Homo sapiens: one gene and its partners. The protein of the gene in region 1 interacts with the protein of each later gene in a biochemical or structural test. Each region holds a gene or a part of one and is shown in the gene's direction. Other genes may lie near its edges. The genes, in order: CRYAA, BORA, CDC40, RAB40B, RAB3C, ADPRHL1 and ALDH1L2.

Region 1 (4,178 bases):
AGGACCATGCTCCCCAGGGCCAGTTTACCAAAATATCAAAATACCAAAATATCAAAAGACTTAAAACTAGGAGTGAGCCAGGTGCAGTGGCTCACGCCTGTAATCCTACACTTTGAGAGGCCAAGGCAGGTGGGTCACCTGAGGTCAAGAGTTTGAGACCAGCCTGGCCAACACGGTGAAACCCTGTCTCTACTAAAAATACAAAAATAATAATAATAATAATAATAATAATAATTAGCCAGGTGTGGTGGCAGGCACCTGCAGTCTCAGCTACTCAGGAGGCTGAGGTGGGAGAATTGTTTGAACCTGGGAGGCAGAGGTTGCAGTGAGCTGAGATCGCGCCACTATATGATCTGGGCGCCACTCTGGGTGACACAGCAAGACTCCATCTCAAAAACAAACAAACAAAACCGGGAGTGCCTGGACACTTAGTGAGAACTGGACAGGGGCCATGGGTCGAGGAGCAAAATAATCACCAGGACTTGTGGATAACAGGATCATGTGGGTGGTGGGTCCGCATGGGTGACAGGGACGTGGGGACATGTCGCCACCCTGACAGGAGCAGCCCAACTCAACAGCCACGGCAGGTCATGCCACGGAGGCTCGAGGCGTTACGTGGGGATGTTACATCAAGGCATTACATCATTACGAGATGTAACGCTCGAGGCGTTACATCGAGGGGACGATGGCCATGGGGCTGGGCGTCCAGGGTGGGCCGCAGAGGGAAGCTCACCACGTGGTGCTCTCATCTGCCCACAGCCCAGCCCGTCTTCCTGTTGGAGGCATGTGACCCCTGGAGGACAAGCATGAAACGCCATAGGGCTCCCCCAGGTGCTGGAATTATGGCACCTTGCAGCTTCTTCTCCACGAGTTTTAACAAGCATGCGTACTTTTGTAAGTGGTGAGTGTAACGGAGGTTCACAGATGCACTCCGCTTTGGAAACCAGTGCACTCTTGCCCAGGCCCGGTGAGACTCTGAGGACGATGTGTCTAACCTCTGTGTCTAACGGGGGTGTGTGCTCTCCCTCCTCTGGCGACCATGAGGACCACCCCGGCAGGACAAGGTGTGCAGAGAACTAGCATGGTCCCTGGCACGTAGCCCCTGCCCAGTGACTGGCAGATGAGAAGCTCCATTGTCGCCCCAGGCGAGTATGGGGCACAGGCGCCTCCTTGGGTTGTCTGCCCTCCCGGGAGCCCCAGGGTGCCCAGGCGGGCCTCAGCTGAGTCCAGGCCTCGGGGACAGTCCGTGCAGCCCCTCCTGGGGCTGGGGGCGGGCACTTGTCCCAGCCACGTTTCTGCTGACTGAGCAGCCTTCTTCATGAGCTCACGCCTTTCCAGAGAAATCCCTTAATGCCTCCATTCTGCTGGTGGCATATATAGGGAGGGCTCGGCCTTGGCTCCACACTGCGCTGCCCAGAGGCCCCGCTGACTCCTGCCAGCCTCCAGGTCCCCGTGGTACCAAAGCTGAACATGGACGTGACCATCCAGCACCCCTGGTTCAAGCGCACCCTGGGGCCCTTCTACCCCAGCCGGCTGTTCGACCAGTTTTTCGGCGAGGGCCTTTTTGAGTATGACCTGCTGCCCTTCCTGTCGTCCACCATCAGCCCCTACTACCGCCAGTCCCTCTTCCGCACCGTGCTGGACTCCGGCATCTCTGAGGTAAGACGTGGCCCGTGGTGCTGGCCTCTCCTCGCTGCTCAGAGGGTGGTGGCCTCGGTGGGTGGAGAGCGATGGACTCTGGTCTTGCTCCGTCAGGCAGGTGGCCTCGTCCCACTTCATCCCCTTGCAGAGGCTGGGCGAGAGCCTGTGTCCCCACTGCAGCCACGTGGCAGAGCTTCCCCTGGCACTGGGGAGAGGGTGGACAAGGGAGCAGCCTGAATCCACCTTTGCTTTCCTCCATCAGCTCATGACCCATGTGTGCTTTGTAAGGCACCAGCCACATACTGGAAACCCCAAGAGCAGCCCATCCAGGCATGCGTGGTGGCGAATGCCAGCTCCCGGGTTCCTCTGGTCTCCTGAGTCCCGGAGACCTGGGAGCAGGTGGGGGTCATAGTCCTGAAAGCCAGAGAGCAGGGCGTTCCTAGCACCTCCTCCAATGAGCTCGGCCTGCCCACGGCTAGCAAAGCTCTTGGCAAGTTTACTTAGGTGCCCTGCCAAGGCTAAAAGGACAGGCAATGGACGCCCCCCCCCCCACCCAACCACAGGCCTCCTCTCTGAGCCACGGGTGAGCGGTGCAGGTTCTGCTGTTCTGGAGGGCCTGAGTCCCACCCAGCACCTCATAAACAGGGTCCTCCCCAGGGCTGCTGCAGTAGGCATCAACGCCAGGGTGCAAAATGCCTCAGGGAGCCAAGGCTGAGCCAGGGGAGTGAGAAGGAGCATGTGGAAGTGCGTTTTGGAGAGGCAGCTGCGCAGGCTGTCAGCAGGCTCCGGCCGCTTCTATAGACAGCATGACACCAAGGGCAGTGACCTCATTCCACAGGCTGAGTCCAGCCAGCCAGCCAAGCATCACCAGCCAGACGATTGACCCTAACGGACCAACCAACCCGTAACGACCCCTCCTACCATAACCAGTAGCCAGCCAGCCCATAACCAGCCAACTTATCTATAACCAGCCACCTGACCATAGCCAAACAACCAGCCGGCCCACCAGTAGCATTCAGCCCCTCAGCTGGCCCTGAGGGTTTGGAGACAGGTCGAGGGTCATGCCTGTCTGTCCAGGAGACAGTCACAGGCCCCCGAAAGCTCTGCCCCACTTGGTGTGTGGGAGAAGAGGCCGGCAGGTGACCGAAGCATCTCTGTTCTGATAACCGGGACCCGCCCTGTCTCTGCCAACCCCAGCAGGGACGGCACCCTCTGGGCAGCTCCACATGGCACGTTTGGATTTCAGGTTCGATCCGACCGGGACAAGTTCGTCATCTTCCTCGATGTGAAGCACTTCTCCCCGGAGGACCTCACCGTGAAGGTGCAGGACGACTTTGTGGAGATCCACGGAAAGCACAACGAGCGCCAGGTGAGCCCAGGCACTGAGAGGTGGGAGAGGGGGGCGAGTTGGGCGCGAGGACAAGGGGGTCACGGCGGGCACGACCGGGCCTGCACACCTGCACCATGCCTTCAACCCTGGGAGAGGGACGCTCTCCAGGGGACCCCGAATCAGGCCTGGCTTTTCCCCAAGGGAGGGGCCGTGCCCACCTGAGCACAGCCAGCCCCTCCCGGTGACAGAGGTCACCATTCCCGAGCTAATGTGGCTCAGGGATCCAGGTTAGGGTCCCTTCCCGGGCTGCACCCAGCCGTCGCCAGCTCCATCCCTGTCACCTGGATGCCAGGGTGGTCTTAGAAAGAACCCCAGGAAGTGGGAGTGCCCCGGGTGGCCGCCTCCTAGCCAGTGTACATCTTCACATGAACCCTACCTGAGGAAGCCAGTCCCCGACGGCATAGCTGCATCCGCTTGGAATGCTTTACAGGCATTGACACCTTCGCCTCACAGCAGCACTTTGGAACCAGTGTCCTCATTATTCCAGGGCACGGCTGGGGAACAAGGGGGTCCTCAGCCTGCTGGGTCCCACAGCTAGTACCGGGCAGGTGGACGGGAGCTTCTCCCCACAGTCACCCTGATGCCCCGCTCTTGCTCGGCTGGAGGCCTCGGATCTCCGTGGTGTTGAGGGAGCCGGGGCACTGGAGCCCTGGTGACCTGCATCTCCTGGCGGAGCCGGGAAGAGCTCATGGACTGTCACAGATGGACAGTGCCCCGCGGGGGCTGGAGAGCAGAGTGGGGCTGGAAGGTGGAACTCTTAGCCAAAGTCTTGGTTTCTTTTGGCCAGGGTCCTCTTTCAATGGCTGGAGAAGGTGGTGCTGGGGGGTGAACGCTGACCTCCTCATGTGCTGCCCCTCCCTCGCCTGGGCCCGGTAAAGCCCCCACGTAGCCCCAGCCAGCCTGGAACATGCTTCCTGAGCTCCCAGCTCTTGGTCTTTGCACCCAGTGGAGGAGGAGGTCAGCCCAGGGAGCTGAGTCTGCGGTTTAGGGCGTCCAGGGGACGTGGAAGCATGTGGGTCGTCTGGCCACATTAGGTAGGGCTGCAGAGACCTGGGCTAGAGCAGTCCTGCGGGGTCTGGAAGGGGAAGACTGGCTGAGGTGCGGGGCCTGGTCTGGAATGATCCTGCGATTTTGGAGTGAAGCCATG
Region 2 (3,500 bases), on another chromosome or scaffold:
ATCAAAGTGAAAAAAAAATTCATTTGGAAAAAATGTTATATTGTCAGTGTTTTATTTCAGAGTTAATATTTTTGACTGTTTAGAACTGTGAACTATCCTCATCTATTTTACAGTAAAAGTTGATTCTAAAATTATTGCCATGATAAACTTGTTATAATTGAAGAGAAAAACTTTGGACAATTTTTAGATGTATGTTGAATTAAATACTTCTTAATTTGTATTAAGGGACAAAGTTTATCAAATTTATATTGTTAAAAGCAATTTAATATCAATGTAAGTCTTTTGAAATAAAGTATCATTGCATTCAAACTTTGAATGGAAAAGAGGGAGGTAAGCCTAACAGCTAACTGCTGAATTTCAGAATACTGCCTAAATGTTACTAAATGTTACAAGATACCACTAGTATTAATTATAAAGTGAGCTTAACATTTGCCAGTTTTCAATGAAGGGAGATTATTTATTTGAAAGGTTATTTTTTAAAATGTTCAATAAGCTTAAGTAATAGCATGGTTATTTTTCTTCTTTATCTTTGTATAGAATAGATAAAGATGTGGAAGACAAAAGACAAAAAGCCATTGAAGAGGTAACTTAAACTGTTACTGATCATTAAATCAGTTAAGGATCAATTCTGCATGTACATCACTTCTTTTAGGAAGACTTTCTTCAATTCCTTCACTGTCCTATCTCCCCTCCAAGCCCTTCACAGTCCCATCTATATAAAGCACCCTTCTGTACTGTCCTAAGACCAATAATTTCCAGCTATCCCAGTACCTTGCATAGCACTTGCATACTGTTGTAATGATCAGTTTAGTGTTTCTGTCCCCTAGACGCAATCTTTTTTGGCCAATACTGTACTTCATCCTTTCATTCTCAGGACCTAGCACAATTTGTCTTCCTTGTGCCTTCAAAATGTTGATTAGCACAAACTTTGTTTCAAGTTGGAGTTTATGTAGAGGAAGTCGAATATTCTCAGGCCTTCAGAGTCTAGATTGGCATTGGGAATGGCTTTGTCTTTTTTTGTTAATACTTTGGATTTTTAAGATATTCATGAAATAAAATCTCTTACTGTTAAACAGGAAAGGTATATCATAATGTAGGCTTTCTAAAAAATAAAAATAATTAAGTTTTTTGCTTTTTTATGTCTGTTGAATTGCCTTTCTTAGCATCTAAATAAGGTTATTATTATTATTATTTTTTGTTTTTTGAGACGGCGTTTCGTTCTTGTTGCCCAGGCTGGAGTGCAATGGCATGATCTCAGCCCACTGCAGTCTCCGCCTCCCAGGTTCAAGTGATTCTCCTGCCTCAGTCTCCCGAGTAGCTGGGATTACAGGCATGCGCCACCACACGCAGCTAATTTTGTATTTTTAGTAGAGACGGGATTTCTCCATCTTGGTCAAGCTGGTCTCGAACTCCCGACCTCAGATGATCCGCCTACCTTGGCCTCCCAAAGTGCTGGGATTACAGGCGTGAGCCACTGCGCCTGGCCCAGCATCTAAGTAAGGGTTACTTACCTTGTTCTTTCCTCAGAAAGTCTTTATGTGATGGCAGCATTTCTGATTTTTACTTTTCTGCCCCTCTAGCCCCCTCAACCCTCCTCTGTTCCTTAGCCGTACTTGGCTCTTCCGTACCACAAAAGACTATGTTTACTCCTGCTAAACATTACCTACTTCTTCTTCTATCTAGTAACTGCACAGTTTTCATTCTGACTCAGTCACTTGGTTCTTCCCCACCTGAATATTCTCAGACTCTCAAAATTTCCAACATTTTGAAAAAATACTTTCTTTAAGAATCCTTAATTTTAAAGAGAAACCCAGCAGGTAAACTTAAGAAAATTTGTTTCTTTTCAATATATATTTTTGAAAATAGAAGAAACATATACATATAGTAAAAACAAAAAGAAAAAATATAAAATAAAAAGCCTCCTGTTTCCCCATCCCACTTCATGAAGGTAATGACTATAACATTTCTTATGTGTACTTTCAGATTAATTTTACTTATTTAATAGCATATGTCCTTAAAATATTTTCGACAAATAGGATTATCATTCTCATACTATTATCGTTCTCATACTGCATCCTCCTTTTTTTGCTTCATGATTTTTCTTAGAAATTTTTGATAACCAGCATATACAGATTTTTACATTCTCTTAGCAACAGCATAGTTACCTAGCCCCTGTTGACAGATGTTTAAATTGTGTTTATTATTTTTCTGTCACAAATAATGCTGCAGTGATTTGTATATATATCTTTATATTCTTGAAATGGACCTAGTAAGTCAGAGGCTTTGTGAATTTTCAGTTTTGGTAGATTTTACCATATTGCCCTCCTAAAAGGTTATACCAGTTTATACTCCTGATTACAGTGTGACACTGCTTGATTTTCCATATCTCCAATATTGATTATTATCAGAATTCTTAATTTGTTCTACTCCTATTACTTTAAAAATGACTTTTTTTTTTTGTATTTCTTTACTTTTGAGTGAACTTATACATCACTTTGTAAGTTTATAGGTCCTTTAATTTTTTTTCTGGTAATTGTCTATATCTGCCCCAGTCCACCTTTAAAAAAAAAAAAAAAAAGAATCTTTTCCTCTTAGATTCATGGGTAATTTAGTTAAGAAAATTAGCTCTTTGTCATATGTATAGCAAAATATGAAGAAAATATGTTTGGTTACTTGCAAAACCTAGGGAAGGGAAAACACTGTGGTAGAAATGAAAGAGGAAAGAAAAGTATACAAATGCTCTATCTCATTTGAATATACTGGCCAGTAGTGTGCTGGTGAATGTTTAACAACTTGCTCTCTGGTCGTGGAAGGAGTACGATTTATAGCGATTCCTGCTATCCATAGTGTAAGTACTCCAACCATGGCCAGTTTCAAGCTACTGATGTGACATCACTGAATGGGAAAGGAAGAATAGTGGCACACCATTATATGTAGGAATTCCACCATACAGATACAAAATACATTATTAACCTCAAGAGCATAGACATTGATAAATATATAAAATAATTAGCAAGTGGTGAGTTTTGGATATTTGTTACCTTTATTTTTAATATATTTAATTGTAAGTTTACATAATTTTATTTTTAATATTGGTTTTAACAACTGGTGCACAGAATTCTTGAAAATTTAATAATCAGATCTTGAGAGCCAGAACAAACAAGCCAGCTTCAGTGCCGTCATTCATACTGGCCTACTTGCATGTCTCTGTCTTAATATATTCCTTCCCTTTTCATCCTTTTTTTTGTAACCCCATCAAAAAAACCTGGGAAAGAAATTTAAAATACTTTGTCTATGATTAATCCTCTTAGTTTAGTTTGCAAGTTTCAAATTTAACTGGTTGATTTGAAGTATTAAGATTCCTCTTTATATATACTTTAAATTTCTTCCATTTTTCCTTTGGTCATTTGTATTAAAATTTTTGCATACAGTTATAAAGTTAGTATATGACATGTTTAATAATTACTTGGAAAAACACAGGTACCGTCTCACATTTTGGG
Region 3 (3,500 bases), on another chromosome or scaffold:
TTACACATATTTGTGTTCTCCAGTATATGTATGACAATGAGTATTTTCTGGATAAAATTTTTTTTTTTCTTTGAGACGGAGTCTCGCTGTCTCCCAGGCTGGAGTTGAGTGGCGCAATCTCCGCTCACTGCAAGCTCTGCCTCCTGGGCTTACACCATTTTCCTGCCTCAGCCTCCCTAGTAGCTGGGACTACAGGCACCCGCCACCACGCCTGGCTAATTTTTTGTATTTTTAGTAGAGACGGGGTTTCACCATGTTAGCCAATAAAAATTTTTACATGCAACATTGTAAGGTTTTGCACTTTAGAAATCATGCAGTGGACCCTATTGGATTGCAAGAGTTGGTTATTAAGTGACTTTAAGGTTACAAAAACAAAAGCAGATCTGGCTTTCTCTCATTTCAACCAGTGACTATGTTACTTCCCCCGAATGTATTCTTTGCCTTAGCATAGCCAACTAAAGTAAAATAAAAATTCTGCCTCTAATTTTGAGGCATATTTTTCAGTTTTTTCATGTGTGGTATTTCCTATATTTGTGAGCTTCAAATGGACGACCTTTTCCCTCTGCAATCTGTTAAGGGCCAAACTCAGAGGATATCTTTATCTGAAGTTCTGTTCTTTTATATCATTCACCTAAATTCTTCTATTAGGAAGTTTAGTCATTTCTGTTTTCTGGGAGGAAAAAAAACTATGCCATAAATTGATAAGTAACTTATAATAATAATATTTGTGATCTGCTTTACAGTTTACATGGTGTTTTTATGTCTCTTTTCTTATTTGGGCACAGGAAGAAATGTGGAAAAGACTGAAAAGTGAATATTACCCAGTTTTATTCTCAAATTACTTTGAATCAACAAAAAGATAAACTATTTAAACTTATTTGACCCACAGGGTGCCCTTCACTTACTGCATTTTAATTTTTGTGGATAATTGAAACTGAATAGAAATAATTTGTTATTCTGTGGTAATTCCAATTGCATACCTAATTGGTATTGAATGCCTCATGGGTATTAAAACAAGGTTGTGGTATTGTCCAAGTTTTCTAATTAAATTTCTGTAAAATAACAGCCCTTCGTTTTCTTGAGAGTTGTTCAATTTGTTCTATAATTTTAGCAGGAGTCAGAGACTGGGACTTACTTATATTTTTTATTGGCTGCCAGTGTTGCTTATATAAACAGTAATTTCTTAAATTGTACTTTGCATTTAAAAATTGATGTGTCATGATACTCTTCAAAATAATTTCAATTTGGAATATTTTAAATACCCTTAATTGGAAAGATCTCATATCCCATATTATAAAGTGGTTCTAGCAACTATACACTATAAAATCCTTTGGGAAGATATGAATGTGGCTAAGCCTCATGTTATTTTAAGCAGTTTGTCACTAGGGGTTGAATATTAAGCGGGAAAAGCATTTAATTTAGCTTTTATGCAGTTTAAACAATTTGTATGTAACCTGTTAACTTTATAGTACTGAGTTTGCTATTGGGCCATGTGCAAGATAGTATCTTTCATCAGTAAAGATTCTAGTGTTCATTCTAGGGTGATATAGATAATATTTGTCATCTTTTCAATGGCCTAGCATTTGAAACCCCTTTCTTAAGGGTCTTAATTTGAAGAACATCCCTGTTCATCACCCATCTTCAGAAGCTGAAAACCCAGATTATTCTAATTCAGCTCCCTTTCAGCTGAGGCTCAGGACTGTTGGGTGGGTGTATCTGTTGGGCTCAGCCAAACAGATGTACCAACCTAAGCTTTCTAATCTGAAATTTATCCACAAAGAAGCCAGGAAAGAGGACTTAAACTGGCAATGATGGTCAATGTTTTCTAGTTTCTCAGGCCAGCAGTTTCAATAGCAGCATCCAGTGGTAGCCATAGCAGTTTAGTAGTGGTGTTCAGTCATGGTAAACAATTATCCTCACTGGATGGGTTCTGTGATGATTAATTTTGAATTGTGATTTCATCTATTAAGTGTATACTGACCCTTTATTTCTGCCTACTTGTCAAAGCTGATTCTCCACACTTCCTGGTAATTCTAAGAGAAACTCATAAGGATTTTATAATGCTGAATCAGCCTGCTGCTTGCAACTAAGAACCCTGACTGATACACCTAGTTACTCTGCCAGTGATTTTTTAATTTGTCACTAGTTAGATCTCTTTAACATTGTTCATTGTGGTTACTTTGAGCTCTTCCCCTTCCCATTTATTCTATTAGTAGCTTGGGTTAAGTGACTTAATCCTGCTAACACTTAACCTCACAGATTATATGAAATAGTGTGTCTGCTCTGGTGCTAGCATGTTAGTGTTGTTAAATTCTTTTTTTTCATATTATTTAGCCTCTTCTAGAGAGCTGTAAACTTATTTATATATTATATAGTCTATTGTCTGTCTCCTCCACTAGAATATAAACTCCACAAGGGCAGGTATCTTTGTCTATTTCTGTGGGCCCAGGACAGTGCCTGGCACATAGTAGGCACACAATCAAAATCTGTTGAATGAATATATGAATCTGGAGCTCCATGCTTGCTTTATAAATTTGCCTGTACCCTGACTACACCAAGAAAATAAAAGGATCAATTATGATTCCCAACACCTCCAAACATCTGTCATCTATCACCCATTCTTACCTTTGTCATCTCTATTTCATCCCAAAGAGAGCACTCCTCTTTTCAGAGGCTAATCTTCCAACTGTGTCCTGAATTTTATTCCCTCCTACCTCTTCTAGGGCAACTGTACCTTTATCTGGTCCTTTTTGTCATGTGTCTCTCCCTGCCATCACCTGCCTTCTAGCCTACGATTGACCACATCTTTGACTTAGTCTCTTCTTAAGGAAGAAGAAAAACTTGACCCTGAAAATCCTTCAACCTGACACCCCATCTGTTCTGTTTTTTACCACCAAATATTTTCAGTACAGATTTATATGGTGGTGTTTTTCTAGATCCTCATTTACACCTCTGCCTCTTGCAGCTGGCTTTCCATAGTCCTTACTAACAGTCACTCTCACAAAGGTTTTTTGTGACATAATTGCCAAATCCAATGATTGTTGGTCAGCCTTATCCTACTTAATTTCTCTACAGATTTGGCTTTTCTGTCTTCAATTTAATTTAACAAATATTTATTGAATATGTGCTGAATGCCCTGCGTTCTACTGGGCAGTGAGGATATATGATGTACATAAAAGCCATGTGCAACAAATAATATATCACAAGTACTATCAAATAGAGTACAGCATTTTTTTAGGACCACAAACAAAAACCCAACAGTTTTCCTGAGGCAGGAGGAGGGAAGGTATCAGGAAAAATAAGAAGGCGGCATAAAATAATAAAGGCATTGCCTAAGGTACAAGGCGGTAACATTGCCTACAGCACAGAAAGCATCAAAGTGCTTGCTATTTTTAAAAATCAGCAATTAGTCTAATATGACAAAAGTGAGGGTGTATTAAAGCAGATAAGGAAGTATTACAATAGGCCAGGCAAGATATAATGAAGCCCTAACTAGGCCA
Region 4 (3,500 bases), on another chromosome or scaffold:
TTCTCTGCCGCCCAGGCTGGAGTGCAGTGGTGTGATTGCAGATCACTGCAGCCTTGACCCTCCTGGGTTCAAGCCATCCTCCTTTTTTGGCCTCCTCAAATGCTGAGATTATAGGCCTGAGCCACAGCACCTGGCCATGTTTTTTTTTTTTTTTAATGACATGTTTCGCTGAGAAACACTATAGGTGCTTGTTATTGAAAGGTGAGGGCAGCCGGGCGCAGTGGCTCACAGCTGTAATCCCAGCACTTGGGGAGGCCAAGGTGGGCGGGTCATGAGGTCAGGAGTTTGAGACCAGCCTGGTCAACATGGTGAAACCCTATCTCTACTAAAAATACAAAAATTAGCTGGGCGTGGTGCCGCGTGCCTGTAATCCCAGCTACTTGGGAGGCTGAGGCAGGAGAATCGCTGGAACCCAGGAGGTGGAGGGTGAAGTGAGCTGAGATCACACCATTGCACTCCAGCCCAGCGACAGAGTGAGATTTTGTCTCGAAAAAAAAAAAAGAAAGAAAGAAAGAAAGAAAGATGAGGGCGTTCGTAACTCCACACTCCATTTCCCTCCACCCAATTCCTCCTGAGTTTTGTAGCCCAGGCTGTTATTTTTATATTGTCCAGGTTTATAGCCCTTGCTTCTGTATTGTGGCTGTAGTGCCCGCAATGATTTAGTATCAATTCAACATTTAAATACAGTCAGTGCTCACCAAAGTCCTTTTACCATTTATGTCTCTGTTCATTGTGCTGTCCCTCTTAATCACCTAGATTTCATTATCAGTCGTTTTTTCAGAAGGACTCGAGTATTTCCTGAGTGTTTTTTTGTGTCTGAGAATGTCTGCCCATGGTCTTTATCTTTGAACAATGTAGAGATATCTTGGCTGGGTATAATACTCTTAGATTTATTTTCTTCCCCAACACTTTGCAGCTGTCATTCCACCATCCCCTGGCTCACATGTGCTGTGGGGAAGCCTGAGGTCAGCTGATTTTTCCCCATGTGGAGGCTTGTCCTTCCCTTCATGAATTTCTGAGGAATTCTTTCTTTTTGTCTCATAGTTCTTCTGCTTAACCAGACCATGTCTCAGAGTTGAATGTTTGTGTTAAACTTTTAGTATGAACGTACTCTTTGAGTTTCCAGGTGTGTGTGTGTATGTGTGTGTGTATGTATTTTTTTTTTCTTAGATGTAGTCTCAATCTGTTGCCCAGGTTGGAGTGCAGTGGTGTGATCTCACCTCACTGCAACCTCCACCTCCCAGGTTCAAGTGATTCGCCTGCTTCAACCTCCCAGGTAGCTGGGATTACAGGTGCCTGCCACCACACTGGGCCAATTTGTTTTTGTATTTTTAGTAGAGACGGGGTTTCCATGTTGGCCAGGGTGGTCTCGAACCCCTAACCTCAGGTGATCTGCTTAGCTCAGCCTCCCAAAGTGCTGGGATTACAGGTGTGAGCCACAGTGCGCGGCCTGAATTTTTCTGATTATCTTATGCCTTTCCTATTTGTTGGTAATTTTGATTTCAGTAAACTGTTCTAGCTGTTTCTAACTTATTGATTAGTTCAGTAAAGATGTTATTTTTGTCTCCTAATTTTCTCTTAGTTTTGGAGTTTTCCTTTTTTTTTTTTTTTTTTTTGAGATGGAGTCTCGCTCTGTTGCCCAGGCTGGAGTGCAGTGGCACGATCTCAGCTCACTGCAACCTCTGCCTCCCAGGTTCAAGCGATTTTCCTGTCTCAGCCTCCTGAGTAGCTGGGACTACAGGTGTGCGCCACCACGCCTGGCTAATTTTTGTATTTTTAGTAGAGACGGGGTTTCACTTTGTTAGCCAGGATGGTCTGGAACTCCGGGCCTAAGGTGATCTGCCCGCCTCGGCCTCCCAAAGTGCTGGAATTACAGGCGTGAGCCACTGCGCCTGGCCAATGTGCACTTCTGTGACTGTGTCTCTGGCCCCCGTTATGTGAAAGAGACTCTCCCATGTTGTGTGAGGCTGTGGGGTGTTAATTCTCATGGTGGTGACATCCCTTTTGTGACTCTACCGTGATTTATTCTCCATCCTGCGGGTGACGGGCATTTGGGTGGTTTCAGGTTTCTGACTATTATGGTTTGTTCTGCCATGAACATTCCTAGTACACATCCTTTGCATTTCTGTTGAAAGGTCCCTATGCGTGTGAATCGCTGGGTATCAGGCACGCAAATGTCTGCACAGGTTTCCCTGTAGTAGATTCTCGCAAAGCATTTTTCACTTGGTGCTCCCACCAGCAAAGCTGGAGGCCCCGGCTGCATCATCTTCCCTCTCAGCACGGGGCTGTCTCTGTCCTTCTGTGGTGTGTAGTTTGCCTTTGCATTTCTCTGATGACTGAGCACCTTTTCATACGTCTATGCGAAATTCCTCTTTGGAAAAATGCCCAAGTCGGCCGGGCCTGGTGGCTCACGTCTGCAATCCCAGCACTTTCAGAGGCCGAGGCGGATGGATCACCAGAGGTCAAGAGTTCGAGACCAGCCTGGCTAACTTGGTGAAACCCCATCTCTACTAAAAATACAAAAAAAAATTAGCCAGGTGTGGTGGCGGGCACCTGTATTCCCAGCTACTCGGGAGACTGAGGCAGGAGAAGCACTTGAACCCGGGAGGCGGAGGTTGCAGTGAGCTGAGATCGCACCACTGCACACCAGCCTGGGCAACAGAGTGGGACTCTGTCTCCAAAAAAAAAGAAAAAAAATAGAAACAGAAAGAAGAAAAATGCCCAAGTCTTATGTCTGTTTTTTCATTTAGGTTGAATTTCTTTCAATGCTTGCTAGGAGTGTTTAAAATATAGATTCTGGCTGTGAGTCCTTTGTCGGCTGTGTGATCCTGGATAGCCACTCTCATCTGCACGTCACCTTTCCACTCCTTCAGTGGTATTTTTGGATGAACAGAAGCTCTTAATTTTAACATAATCCAAATTATCAGTGTTTTGTGGTTAGGACTTTGGGTCCTGTTGAACAAACCTTTGCTGCTCCCAGATTTAAAAAAAAAATGTTCTCTACAAGCATCGTTTTACCTTTGACATGAATGGCTGCCTCCAGCTGGGGTGAGGCCTGAGGCAGGGATCGAGACACACTTTTTTCAGTCGGATGCCCCCCACCCCCACCCCGCATCGCACGGCCACCGTTGTCCCAGCTGAGAGCCCGCCTGTGGGTCTGGGTCTGCACCGTTGGCCCGCCTGTCTCTTGTGTGTGTGCCCCGGGTCAGACTCTGTCTTCTGTGGATGGGCATGCCCTGTGCTGGCCAGGGCAGTCAGATGCATCTTGTCCTTGCTCAGGCAGCTGTGCCCAGGTGTTCCCTTTGCTCCGATACGGTCAGCGAGGCCTGGATTCTCCCTCCTGGGCGTTTGTCTTCCTCTCGGTCTGTAGTTGCAGGGCAGAGTTCTTGGATCTTGGACCCTGTCGGCAACTTGACTCCACAGACTATGTGGACCCCACTGCTCTGCCTGTCACCTCAGCCCACGGACCGTGCGGGCCCCACTGCTCTGCCTGTCACCTC
Region 5 (3,500 bases), on another chromosome or scaffold:
AGCTTCATATCAAATGAGAGTCTGATCTACACCTATTTTGTTTTTGTTTTGTTTTGTTTTTATCACAGATGGCCTCTGCCCAAGATGCCAGGTACGGCCAGAAAGACTCCTCTGATCAGAACTTTGACTACATGTTCAAATTACTCATCATCGGCAATAGCAGTGTGGGGAAAACATCTTTTCTATTCCGTTATGCAGATGACTCCTTTACATCTGCATTCGTCAGCACAGTTGGGATCGATTTCAAAGTAAAAACTGTATTCAAAAATGAAAAGAGAATCAAGCTTCAGATTTGGGTAAGTGGCTTTGAACTGGCAGTGTTCTTCAGGCTGGGGTGTTGAACATATCCATTTGTAAGGGAGAAACTTTCTGCCTTGTTCTATCCCCAGGGCATCCACAAGCCTCAATTTCCAGCTTCTTTGCTGCAGAACATTCTGTTTCAAAGAAAGTAGTGGTGATGCCTCTTTAAGACATGAGGGGTGAATTATTATTATGCCTTGTTGTCATGTGGTGCTCCTTAAGAGTCTTCAGAATAAAAAAAAAATCCAAACCTCTATCTTGTTGGTGGTGGAAGGAACACTTTAAGTCTGGCTTTGCCTTTTATGATCTCTGTAACCTTGAGAAAGTCTGTGACTCCTTCTCTGACATTTTTGTAATCTATAAAATAAGCTAAGTGGTTCTGGGTTTTTAGGTCACAGAAAGCAGCCTCTCCTGGGCATTTCAAAGAAGAAGATAAACAACCAAATATAGGAAAAGTGTAGGTTTAGACCCTTCATAAAGCTCCAGATAGAACTTCAGAGATGGTCTATTTATACTGTGCAAACTGTTTTCAACTCTAAGAGCTATGTTTATATATGCAAATAAAACAAATGAAATGAAATATTTATTTGAAACAGGGTCTTTCCAAAGTAGAAGGTTCTCCCAAAGTTTTGAGACCATTTGGTTAGCTTTTTGCCTCTCCTTACCTCCAGAAGAAGATCAGAGGTAGCTTAGCCAAACTGGTGGGATAAATTTAGGAGACCAGTGAGCAAAAAACAGAGGAAAATCTATGTGGATAGCAGGTCCAAGGCAATATAAAAGATGGAGCAGCCAATTTAAAAAAATTGTTACACCAAAAAAGACTGATGTAGTAAATATTTTATGGACATCGTAATATGTACATAGGAAGAATGTTTCTACAGTAAGTTTTGGCACCTTTTTCCTATTCCTTTGTACCTCTGCCACTCAAATTGATTTGATCTGTAATCAGGCATTTCCCAAGAGGTGTTTTCTAGCTCCTTCTGAGACATTTACAACAGCTACTACCATTTGGTGCTGGTGCCAGGATTGATCAATAGGACTGACAATAACCCTCCCTTCATAAATATGGAAAGCTAAAAACAAAAAACAAACAAATCGCAGAGTAGAGGATTTTAACTTTTTTAAAAAAGAAAACAGCCCTTTATTTAAAAATCTGTATAAACTGAATGACCTTTACACATCCTAAAGGTCTTATTAAAGTAGAAATTTAAAGTAATATTTAAAGAGGCAGGTATATACACAGACAGGTACCTTCTTATGTAGCTTACAATAGGCTGTTACTATTTTACTTGTTCTAACTCTAGAGTCTTTCAAATCTAATTATAAATCACGTAAGAATTTGTACAAGTAGACCTTAGGCTGGGCATATTCCCTGCTCCATCATTCCCCAAAGCCATTTTTATTGGGAGTGTTCCTTTTCAGAAACTTGACCTCAATTAATGGAGATACCTATCACACACTCCTCTGTATGGAGACAGAAAAAGCTTTGTCCATTGCTTCAAGTATGGGTCCTGATTCATTCTCTTCCTTTTGAATTGCAGGCAATCCAATTGTTATATGATACATTTCGTATTAAGTTTTAAGGAAGGTTCCTTAATTCTCAGGGGCTTTGGTGAATGGAAAATTAAATTAATTTGGAAACGATACATCCCTTAACTCCATGACAATGTTCTTTTTACTAATATGAAAGAACAATCATTCCTCTGGTTGATAGCTCCACTTTTTCCTCTCTTCTTTCTGTCATAGAGATAATTAAAAATAGTGGTTAGAATCATTTAGATAAAGCATCAGCATGGTGTGTTAAGCCAGTCTTATAATTTCTGGCAAATTTTCAGTGTAGGTTTTTGACAGAAATTCTTTGTTGAGGTGCAAAATTATCTATCTTCAATGTAAATCAGATATATTTCAAATAATATAAATTATTTTTCACACTTAAAAATTATTTTCTTTAAAACAATGCTGGTACCAGGCCAGTGCTAATTCACTCACCTTTTTTTTTTGGCATTGAAATAAGTTATTTATGTCTACATCTCACTTCTGGATGAATATAGCTCTTCTCTGAGCCAACCAAAGCTCAGATCCCTGAGCTGCTTCTACTCTAATACCTCCTCATGCTGCTCAGTTTCCATAAGTTCATGAAAAAGTCTCTGAAATATTATTATCTTCAGATTTGCCTCTAATCTTCTACAATCTACTAGTTTCTTATTAAAAAAAAAACCCTTTAAGTCTATAGACAGTCAGGCCTGGGACCTCATTCTAGGGCCTCCATTCTCCTGCTCTGTGGATGCCCACACTCCCATCAGGGTTCAGCCACTTGGGAATCCTTCACTTTCCCCCATCGTCAGTCACAATAGTAGATTAATAGCCATTACTATCATTGCAATTAAAACATAATCCAATTTCTTCCTCTTTAGGTACATTAGGAGCTCTTAAGGCACATCTGATTTTAGGAGTGTGAAAATCAGTTTTATAATAGTGTATACAATACTGTATACTATTATATGTACTATTGTGGTCTGTTAGATTGTGAAACATTTAAAAGAAGTACAATACAAAGATTTTGTGCTTATGGAACTTGTAGTATAGTTAGAAAAGGAAATTAACACTCGTTGGATAATTATGTACTTCTATAAGCAAATATCAAATTGTATAAATATTATGCATAGCTAGCATTTATTGAATACATACCATATGTTAGGCATTATCTTTGCCTTATTTCTAATTCTCACAACCCAACTTTTAATTTATTACTATCCTATTTTACCTGAGAAATCTGCATGTAGGACAGTTAAATAAGTGAAATAACTTGTTCAGGGTTGCACATGCTGAATGGCTAAGAGGGGATTCCAAGCTAGGTCTATCACATTCTAACACTGCGCTAATTAAGAGTCTTCTTGACTAATGTGGTGGTTATTTTTTTTGAAAATGGCAATCTTGAGTGATGCATCTGGGATGGTGAAATGTTTTTGAAAGAGTTCACATTGAAGGCATGCAGGAGAAGAAATAATGAGGAGCAACAGTGGTATGCTTAAGTATAGGCATTCCTATGATAATTCCAGGAATCCTTGCATTATGCTATAATATAAGTGTGCTGGAAATTATTTAGTTGTAGGTAGTTATGATTGTTTAACAACTCTCACAAATCACTTATTTGGAAATATATTTAGCACAGATGGCTTGTCATCTCATTGTGCTTTAAT
Region 6 (3,962 bases), on another chromosome or scaffold:
GAATCTCAGGATCATGCTAGCTGGCATGACTGTGCTGATGGCTGCCTCCACCAGCAGACAGTGGAGGGTGAGGTGAACTCACTGCTTGAGATCCTCCGTTTTAACAAGTGCTGATATAACGCCAGGCGGTTAAATGCTTCCTACTGTCTCGCTGTACACTACGAGAGTTTTTATCAGACGCATTTCTTCAGTCCAGGTGTAACTCTTTGCTTCCCCTGGGTCTGATGGAAACCAGGCCCCGAGGAAGGAGACGGGAGAGACACAGCCCTGCTGGGCTCCCGGCCTCTGCGGAGAACTGTCCTGGGGTGGGGTCGGGAGATGGACTGTTTTCCTAATTTATTTCAAACCAGGAACCCTGGCTGTGTGCATTCTGCCTCACCCCCCGTCTCCATATTTTTTAATATTCTTTTCATGAGCTAGCAGGGATGATGTAAATACACTGAGCTGACCGAGGGCCGGATGGGAGGTTCTAGTGAAGCCTGCGGTTTGCTGACGACTTTCCCCCTCAGTGCAGTCCAATTATTTGGGAGCCGTTAAACACCGCATGCTGAGAAGACACCGTCATTGTTCACACAGGAGCTAGATAGACTTTGTTCCCTCTACACTGCATTTTTTAAAAGTTTTCTATCAAAAACACATTTCATAATCGAAAAGTTTTCTAAATGATAAAACCGCATGTCACAGATTAATCTCAACATTATGTTGAGTGAAGGAAGCCAGACACCGAAGGCCACACATTGTATTTGAAATGTCCAGGAAAGGCAGAACTGTAGAGACAGCAGATGGGTTGTTGCCCGAGGGGTGAGGGCACGCCCCGCAGCGGGCGGCAGTGACAGGCACGCCTGCACACATCTGCTCCCGCATCACCCCACGCCACACACGGGGAAGTGTGCGCACTCCTTCCAGGGACAGCGAGAGGAGCCCCTGCTCTGTCAACGCTCTGAATGTGCTGCGGCTGCCGGCAGAAGCTAGCAGGCTCCTCTGCTGAGGAGCTGGTGCCTGTCCAGACGCAGAAGAAAACTGACACCTCCCACGTGGGGGACAGAAAGGTCCTCTCATTGGTGCCACCTGCAGAGATAGACAAGGAGCGCCTGGCCATCAGAGGACGCTCCTGACAGTGACACAGTGACCACTATAAAAGTCAGGCGGGCTGAGGAGGAGACAAAGGCCAGGACGCTCCGCAGCTGTTGGGGAAGAGGAGCTGCCTCCTGGGATGGAGAAATTTAAGGCTGCGATGTTGCTGGGGAGCGTCGGCGATGCTCTTGGCTACAGAAATGTCTGCAAGGAGAACAGCACTGTAGGCATGAAGATCCAGGAGGAGCTGCAACGTTCCGGGGGCCTGGACCACCTCGTACTCTCGCCAGGAGAATGGCCCGTGAGTGACAACACCATCATGCACATCGCAACCGCCGAGGCCCTCACCACAGGTAGGCTGGGCCCACCGCGCTCCGGTGTGCGGGCTGGAGGGAACACTGGCTGCTCGAGTTCTCCCAGTAAGCCTCCGAGAGCTTTGAAGGCAGTGCGGTCCTTCAGCGGATGGTGTTACCTGATACCGCTGCTAAAAGTGGCAATTTAATCTGAGTGTCCCTCAAATTTGATATGCGGCAGATCACGTTTCTCCTGTGGTTTCTCTGAGGGTGACAGTATTACTTTACTTTGCAGTTATTAAGATTCAGTTTTTAAACGTGACTTTTCACTTGTATTTGTAAAGCGTTAACTAGGCCTAGCACCTTCTGTTTCTAATAGAGTTAAAGCCAGTGAAGCCTCTCTCGGCCGTGCTGGTGGGAGTAGGGTGAGGGCTCACTTCTCGCTGCAGAGATTAAGCCTTCTTGTTCTGAATTCATTACAAAGGGATGTAAAATAAGCCAGTTTGAAATGTGAACCCATTAATACTGTTTGGGGATTAGTTCTAAATTCCAATGAATTAAAGTTAGAATATCATCTCCCAAAATGGTTCAGCTTGGAGAGTTGCCCATACACAAATGTGTTCTAAGAAAATGACATAAACTTGATTGGACGAGATTGGAGACAAAGCTTCTTAAAATACCTTTAAGTAGCAAATTGATTTTAGGATCAAGCTTTTGCATGAATTTCAGGGAAATGGCAGGTGCACAGACATGCAGTCCAGCTTTCCTACGAGGCATTTGCTCTTCAAAACCCCGTGGGTGCTGTTTATCATGGCAGAATTAAAATCTGAGGGCTGCAGCTAAGTCAATGAAATCTCACTTATGCGTTCACTCCACCATTCTGTTCATCTGCCATGGACGTGCCCAGTTTAGTTCTGTGCTCACAGCAGAGGAATGCCATCGAGCCTGTGGCCGGTCCCTAAATAACGGGAGAGCTGAAGCGCCGGCGATAAGATAAGGCTCCCGGCTTGCTGGAGACGGGGAGGCGTCCGACTGTTCACAGCCTTGGCGTCCAGGAGCTCCTGCTTCTGGTTTTCCAGGCGGCCACTCGTGTGCCCTTAGGACCAGCAACCCCATGCTTGTGCCCCGCAGCCCAGAACAGGTGCACCCCACACACAGACACCTGTGGGACACAGCTCCGGCTTGTTTTCACCGTAGACGGCTGGAGCTCACTCTTGAGTTTGGCTTCCTCTGGGCGTCTGATGCCGTGTGTGCGCTCATACCAGCTCTGCATGTCCCATTTCTGGTAGCACTTGGTGGGCGTTTTGTAAATGGCAGCGTCCATGGCTGTGGGTCTGGTCCTGCCAGGCCCGCAGGGAGGGCAGCGGCACAGGACACTCCAAAAGTGCACCGACGGAGATCGGCCCAACAGGACACGAAATTCACACAGTTAAAAGGGTTACGGACGTTTAGGGCACTGTTTTTTGTTTGTTTTTTGAGACGGAGTCTTTCTCCATCGCCCAGGCTGGAGTGCAGTGGCGTGATCTCAGCTCACTGCAACCTCCACCTCCCAGGTTCAAGTGATTCTCCTGCCTCAGCCTCCTGAGTAGCTGGGGCTACAGGTGCCCACCACCACGCCCGGCTGATTTTTGTATTTTTAGTAGAGACGGGGTTTCACCACGTTGTCCAGGCTGGTCTCGAACTCCTGACCTCAAGTGATCCACCCACCTCAGCTTCCCAAAGTGCTGGGATGACAGGCGTGAGCCACCATGGGGCGCTATTCTTAAGGAGGAAGTAAGTTTGCTCTAAGCTCTCAGGGTCCTCAGCTGTGGACTGGAAGGGAGGGTTCACTGTGCTGCTGCAGCGTCTAGTTTGTGGGTCATGAGAAAATACGCATCCAAGATCACCCCTGGAATTGCTTACTGTGGGCGGCAAGCCACCCAGGCACTGAGGCAAGAGACAGAGGACACGAGCTGTTCCAGTATAATAAAACAAGAATAGTTATACCAGATATAGATCTTAGATATGATTATATATGAATATCATTAATCATTAGTTTGTAGCAATTACTTTTTATTCCAATATTATGATAATCCTCGCTCTATAATCATAGCCTAGGAAAAACCAGGCCATACAGAGATAGGAGCTGAGGGGACATAGTGAGGTGTGACCAGAAGACAAGAGTGCGAGCCTTCTGTTATGCCCGGACAGGGCCACCAGATGGCTCCTTGGTCTAGCTGTGACGCCAGCGTCTGGGAAGACGCCCGTTACCAGGCGGATCGTGGTCCAGCAGTAGCAAAAGGTGGCAAGGAACAACACCTGCTACTTAGCAGACCAGGAAGGGGGGGGGGGTCTCCCTTTCCCCAGGGGAGTTTAGAGAAGACTGCTCTTCCACCTCTTGTGGAGGGCCTGACATGAGTCAGGCTCGCCCGCAGTTATCCGGAGGCCTAACCGTCTCCCTGTGATGCTGTGCTTCAGTGGTCACACTCCTAGTCTGCCTTCATGTTCCATCCTGTACACCTGGCTCTGCCTTCTAGATAGCAGTAGTAAATTAGTGAAAAATTAGTACTATCAGTACTAATAGTCCCTGATATGCAGAAATAATGGCATAAGCTG
Region 7 (3,500 bases), on another chromosome or scaffold:
TCCAGTCCAAAGAGGTGGGACCCTTCCTTGCTCTTTGGAACCAAGTACCTGCTTTATTTCTCAGTTCTAGGAACCAGGTTCTTGTTTCATCATTGCCCGACCTCTGCTCTGGTGTCTTATCTGTTCATAGGATCTCCAAATTCAGCTTTAAACTGTATTTAATTGTCTGTTATACACTGAGGACTCTAAATCCTGAGGATATAATATTAATAGATGCATTAATAAATGCTTTACATATACAATTGTCCCTTGTTGTCCCTTGTATTCATAGGGGATTGGTTTCAGGACCTCCCGTGGATATCAAAATCTGAAGATGTTCAAGTCCCTTATATAAAACGGGTAATATTTGTATATAACCTGTGCATATTCTCCTGTATACTTTAAATCATCCGTAGATAACTTATAATAATGAATACAAAGTAGATGCTATGTAAATAATTGTCCCACTGTATTGTTTATGGAATAATGACAAGAAAAATTATACATGTCTAGTACAGATGCAATTTTTTCCAAATGTTTTCGATTCATGGTTGGTTGAATCCACGGATACAGAACCCACAAATACAGAGGGCGACTGTGTACTCCTTTAATCCTCATGATATCTCAATGAAGTAGGTACTAGGTTAAGCATCCCAAATCTGAACATTTGAAATCTGAAATGCTTTAAAATCTGAACATTTTTGAGCACTGACATGACACTCAAAGGTAATGATCATTACAGCATTTTGGATTTCAGATTTTCAGATTTGGGATGCTCCAATGGTAAGTATAATGCAAACATTCCAAAGTCTGAAAATATCCGAAATCTGAAACACTTCTGGTTCCAAGCATTTTGGATAAGGGATTCTCAACCTAGATTATTATGACCATTTTGCTGATAAGAAAACTGAGACCCAGAAGTGAACTAACTTTTTCAGACTCTCATAACCCAAAAGATAAAACAATAAACAAGAAAGAAATAGTCCCATTTTCAAGGAGTTCATAGATTAGTGGGACAGACTATTAAATCTATGTTTTTAGGAAAAGAATAATAATACATAATACACTAACTAAAATGATATACCAAAAATGAAATATAAATGAGCAATAAAATATGAAAATACACTCAACCAAACTAGTAATCAGGCAAATGCAACTTAGAACAAGATACCATTTTTCACTCATCAGGGTGGCAAAAATCATAAATTTGACGATATTGTGTGTTTAGCAGGGGTGAGAAAACAGTTCATCCACTACTCTAGAGGTCAATTTGATGCTACATATTTAAATTAAATTTATGTTTAAAAATGATCCTGCAGTTTCACTTGTAGGTATCTGAGAAAAATACTTCTACATGGGCACAGGAAGCATGTACCATGATATTCATTGCCATGGTATTTGTAATAATGACATATTGAAAGCCAAAATGTTTCTCAATAGGGACATGAACAAATAAACTGAGATATAGCTACACTAAGGAATACTGTGCAAGAATTTCAAAGAATGAATTATATGTACGAACAAGGAAAGTTGTGGAACATTACGCATAATATTATTTCATTTGAATTATTTTTGGAAATACAAAACAATACTTTTTGTATATATTTCCATGTTTTTAAATGCCTAGGAAAGGTCTGTAGAATTCACACCAAACAATAGTAGTTTCCTCTGGGGAGTGAGAAGGGGATGCAGATTGGGAGTGATGGTCAAAAGGGACTGTAGTCTTATCTGTGATCTTTTCTTTTCGTAAGGAGCTTGTGTGTATATGTAATATGTATAATTAAAAATTAATTTTAAAAATTTTATACAATTAAAATATTATAGTAAATTCTGTGCATGGAAATCCTGCCTCTCTAGTACTGGAGTCCGTTTCTGGACTCGAGCCCTTTGGACTGTCTCTCCCTTTACTCAAAGTCTTTGAAGTGTTCTGTGGTCACCAGCCTCGGCCCAGGAGCTCTCTCCAGCCTCTGAGTCCTGGGCATCCCCCTCTGGCATCACCTGCTCATAGGCCCCTGTACTGACATCCCTCCTTTTAAAATATTTTATCCTTTTTATGATGAAAAAACAAAAGTTGGCCAGACATCCAAGAAAGCCCTCACTGATATCTTCTTTATATAATGAGGCAATAGGAACATCAAGTTGCGCAAGCTTGCCATTTAGGATGGTATCCTGAATCTTGCAGATCTACCTCTATGTAAAGTGTACTTGTTGCTTCTGTTAGTATGAGAGTTTGTTACAATTGGTTGCAAGAGCTTTCACACTATTCCAGACTATATCCTGTGACTATGCTACAGGTGGATTGCTAGGTCAGCTTTGATTTTCACGCTCTGCTCCATTCTCAACACAAGAGGTGTGTCTACCCGGAGCTAGTTCATGCCTCCAGAGTTACCTAAGCAGTCTATTAGCATAGAAACTAGACTCTCCTGGTTTCAATTAACTCTCCTGCTTAAAGCGGCTCAGTGAATCTCATTGTCTTCACAATAAGGTCCCAATTATTTGACACAAAGCGCTCCATAATGTCTCTTGCTACGGTGTCGCTTGTCACCACTCCTTAACTCCCAGTATTGGACACGCTGTGCACATGCATTTGTTTCTTTGTAAATACCGCACCCTCTGCCTGGAACTTCCCAAGCCTCTCCCTTTTCTCTGCCAACTCCCAAGATGGATTCTCTAAGATTCAGCTAAGTAACTCCCTTCTGGAGAAGGCTTCTCGTCTCTTAACCAAACTGTGCTCTCTTATTCTAGCACTGTTACTATGTCTTAGCTTGTGTGCCCTCCCTACTAGTTGGTGGATTCCCGAGTACAGGGACTGCTTCTTTTTATCTTTAGTGTAAGGGTCGCAAAGAGAAATTCCCACAGAGGCCAAACAGGTAAAGCAAATGAGAGATTTGAGCTGCATAGAGGGCAAGACCATGTCTAGGGTAAAGGGGCCACCACTGCTCAGCGCTAGCTGACTGTTGCTATACGGCGCCACAGACCAGGGTTGACAAACCTCCTGAGTTTTTTTGATTTTTGTTTTTTGAGACAGAGTCTTGCTCTGTCGCCCAGGCTGGAGTGCAATGGCGCGATCTCAGCTCACAGCAACTTCTGCCTCCCGGGTTCAAGCGATCCTCCTGCCTCAGCCTCCTGAGTAGCTGGGAATACAGGCACGCGCCACCATGCCCAGCTAATTTTTTTGTACTTTTCATAAAGATGGGATTTCACCATGTTGGCCAGGCTGGTCTTGAACTCCTGACCTCAGGTGATCGGCACCCAGCCAAACCTCCTGAGTTTTAAAGACAAGTTAGAAGTTGTGCCTTCTGAGGTGCAACCTCCTAAAAATCTTAACAGAGTCCTCTTAAAAATGCTTTGTGGGCCAAATAAAACACCCCTGCCAGGCCAGTAATGTGCCACCTCTACCATGCACTACGCCCAGAGTGTGGCAAAGCCTGAAAACATGCTTGTTGGATGAGTCTTGCACAGAGTCAGGCACAGTTTGGGGCACTCTGTGCCGGATGCTCCATGAAGTGTTAGGCACCTCA

The links.
Region 2: the proteins of CRYAA (region 1) and BORA form a complex in vitro, tested with the Homo sapiens proteins (one large-scale study listed by BioGRID).
Region 3: the proteins of CRYAA (region 1) and CDC40 form a complex in vitro, tested with the Homo sapiens proteins (one large-scale study listed by BioGRID).
Region 4: the proteins of CRYAA (region 1) and RAB40B form a complex in vitro, tested with the Homo sapiens proteins (one large-scale study listed by BioGRID).
Region 5: the proteins of CRYAA (region 1) and RAB3C form a complex in vitro, tested with the Homo sapiens proteins (one large-scale study listed by BioGRID).
Region 6: the proteins of CRYAA (region 1) and ADPRHL1 form a complex in vitro, tested with the Homo sapiens proteins (one large-scale study listed by BioGRID).
Region 7: the proteins of CRYAA (region 1) and ALDH1L2 form a complex in vitro, tested with the Homo sapiens proteins (one large-scale study listed by BioGRID).

The regions. Positions count from the first base shown.
Region 1 is NC_000021.9:43,167,630-43,171,807, forward strand, and holds the start of CRYAA (alpha-crystallin A chain), read left to right. Parts: upstream 1-1,378; 5' UTR 1,379-1,470; coding exon 1,471-1,659; intron 1,660-2,606; exon of another isoform or gene 2,607-2,702; coding exon of another isoform or gene 2,703-2,780; intron 2,781-2,887; coding exon 2,888-3,010; intron 3,011-3,407; exon of another isoform or gene 3,408-3,953; intron 3,954-4,178. UniProt on the Homo sapiens protein: Contributes to the transparency and refractive index of the lens. In its oxidized form (absence of intramolecular disulfide bond), acts as a chaperone, preventing aggregation of various proteins under a wide range of stress conditions.
Region 2 is NC_000013.11:72,734,423-72,737,922, forward strand, and holds part of BORA (protein aurora borealis), read left to right. Parts: intron 1-537; coding exon 538-583; intron 584-3,500. UniProt on the Homo sapiens protein: Required for the activation of AURKA at the onset of mitosis.
Region 3 is NC_000006.12:110,186,927-110,190,426, forward strand, and holds part of CDC40 (pre-mRNA-processing factor 17), read left to right. Parts: intron 1-3,500. UniProt on the Homo sapiens protein: Required for pre-mRNA splicing as component of the activated spliceosome. Plays an important role in embryonic brain development; this function does not require proline isomerization.
Region 4 is NC_000017.11:82,692,199-82,695,698, reverse strand, and holds part of RAB40B (ras-related protein Rab-40B), read left to right. Parts: intron 1-3,500. UniProt on the Homo sapiens protein: RAB40B small GTPase acts as substrate-recognition components of the ECS(RAB40B) E3 ubiquitin ligase complex which mediates the ubiquitination of target proteins.
Region 5 is NC_000005.10:58,617,575-58,621,074, forward strand, and holds part of RAB3C (ras-related protein Rab-3C), read left to right. Parts: intron 1-68; coding exon 69-296; intron 297-3,500.
Region 6 is NC_000013.11:113,450,689-113,454,650, reverse strand, and holds the start of ADPRHL1 (inactive ADP-ribosyltransferase ARH2), read left to right. Parts: upstream 1-1,162; 5' UTR 1,163-1,213; coding exon 1,214-1,427; intron 1,428-1,444; exon of another isoform or gene 1,445-3,962. UniProt on the Homo sapiens protein: Required for myofibril assembly and outgrowth of the cardiac chambers in the developing heart. Appears to be catalytically inactive, showing no activity against O-acetyl-ADP-ribose.
Region 7 is NC_000012.12:105,077,959-105,081,458, reverse strand, and holds part of ALDH1L2 (mitochondrial 10-formyltetrahydrofolate dehydrogenase precursor), read left to right. Parts: intron 1-3,500. UniProt on the Homo sapiens protein: Mitochondrial 10-formyltetrahydrofolate dehydrogenase that catalyzes the NADP(+)-dependent conversion of 10-formyltetrahydrofolate to tetrahydrofolate and carbon dioxide.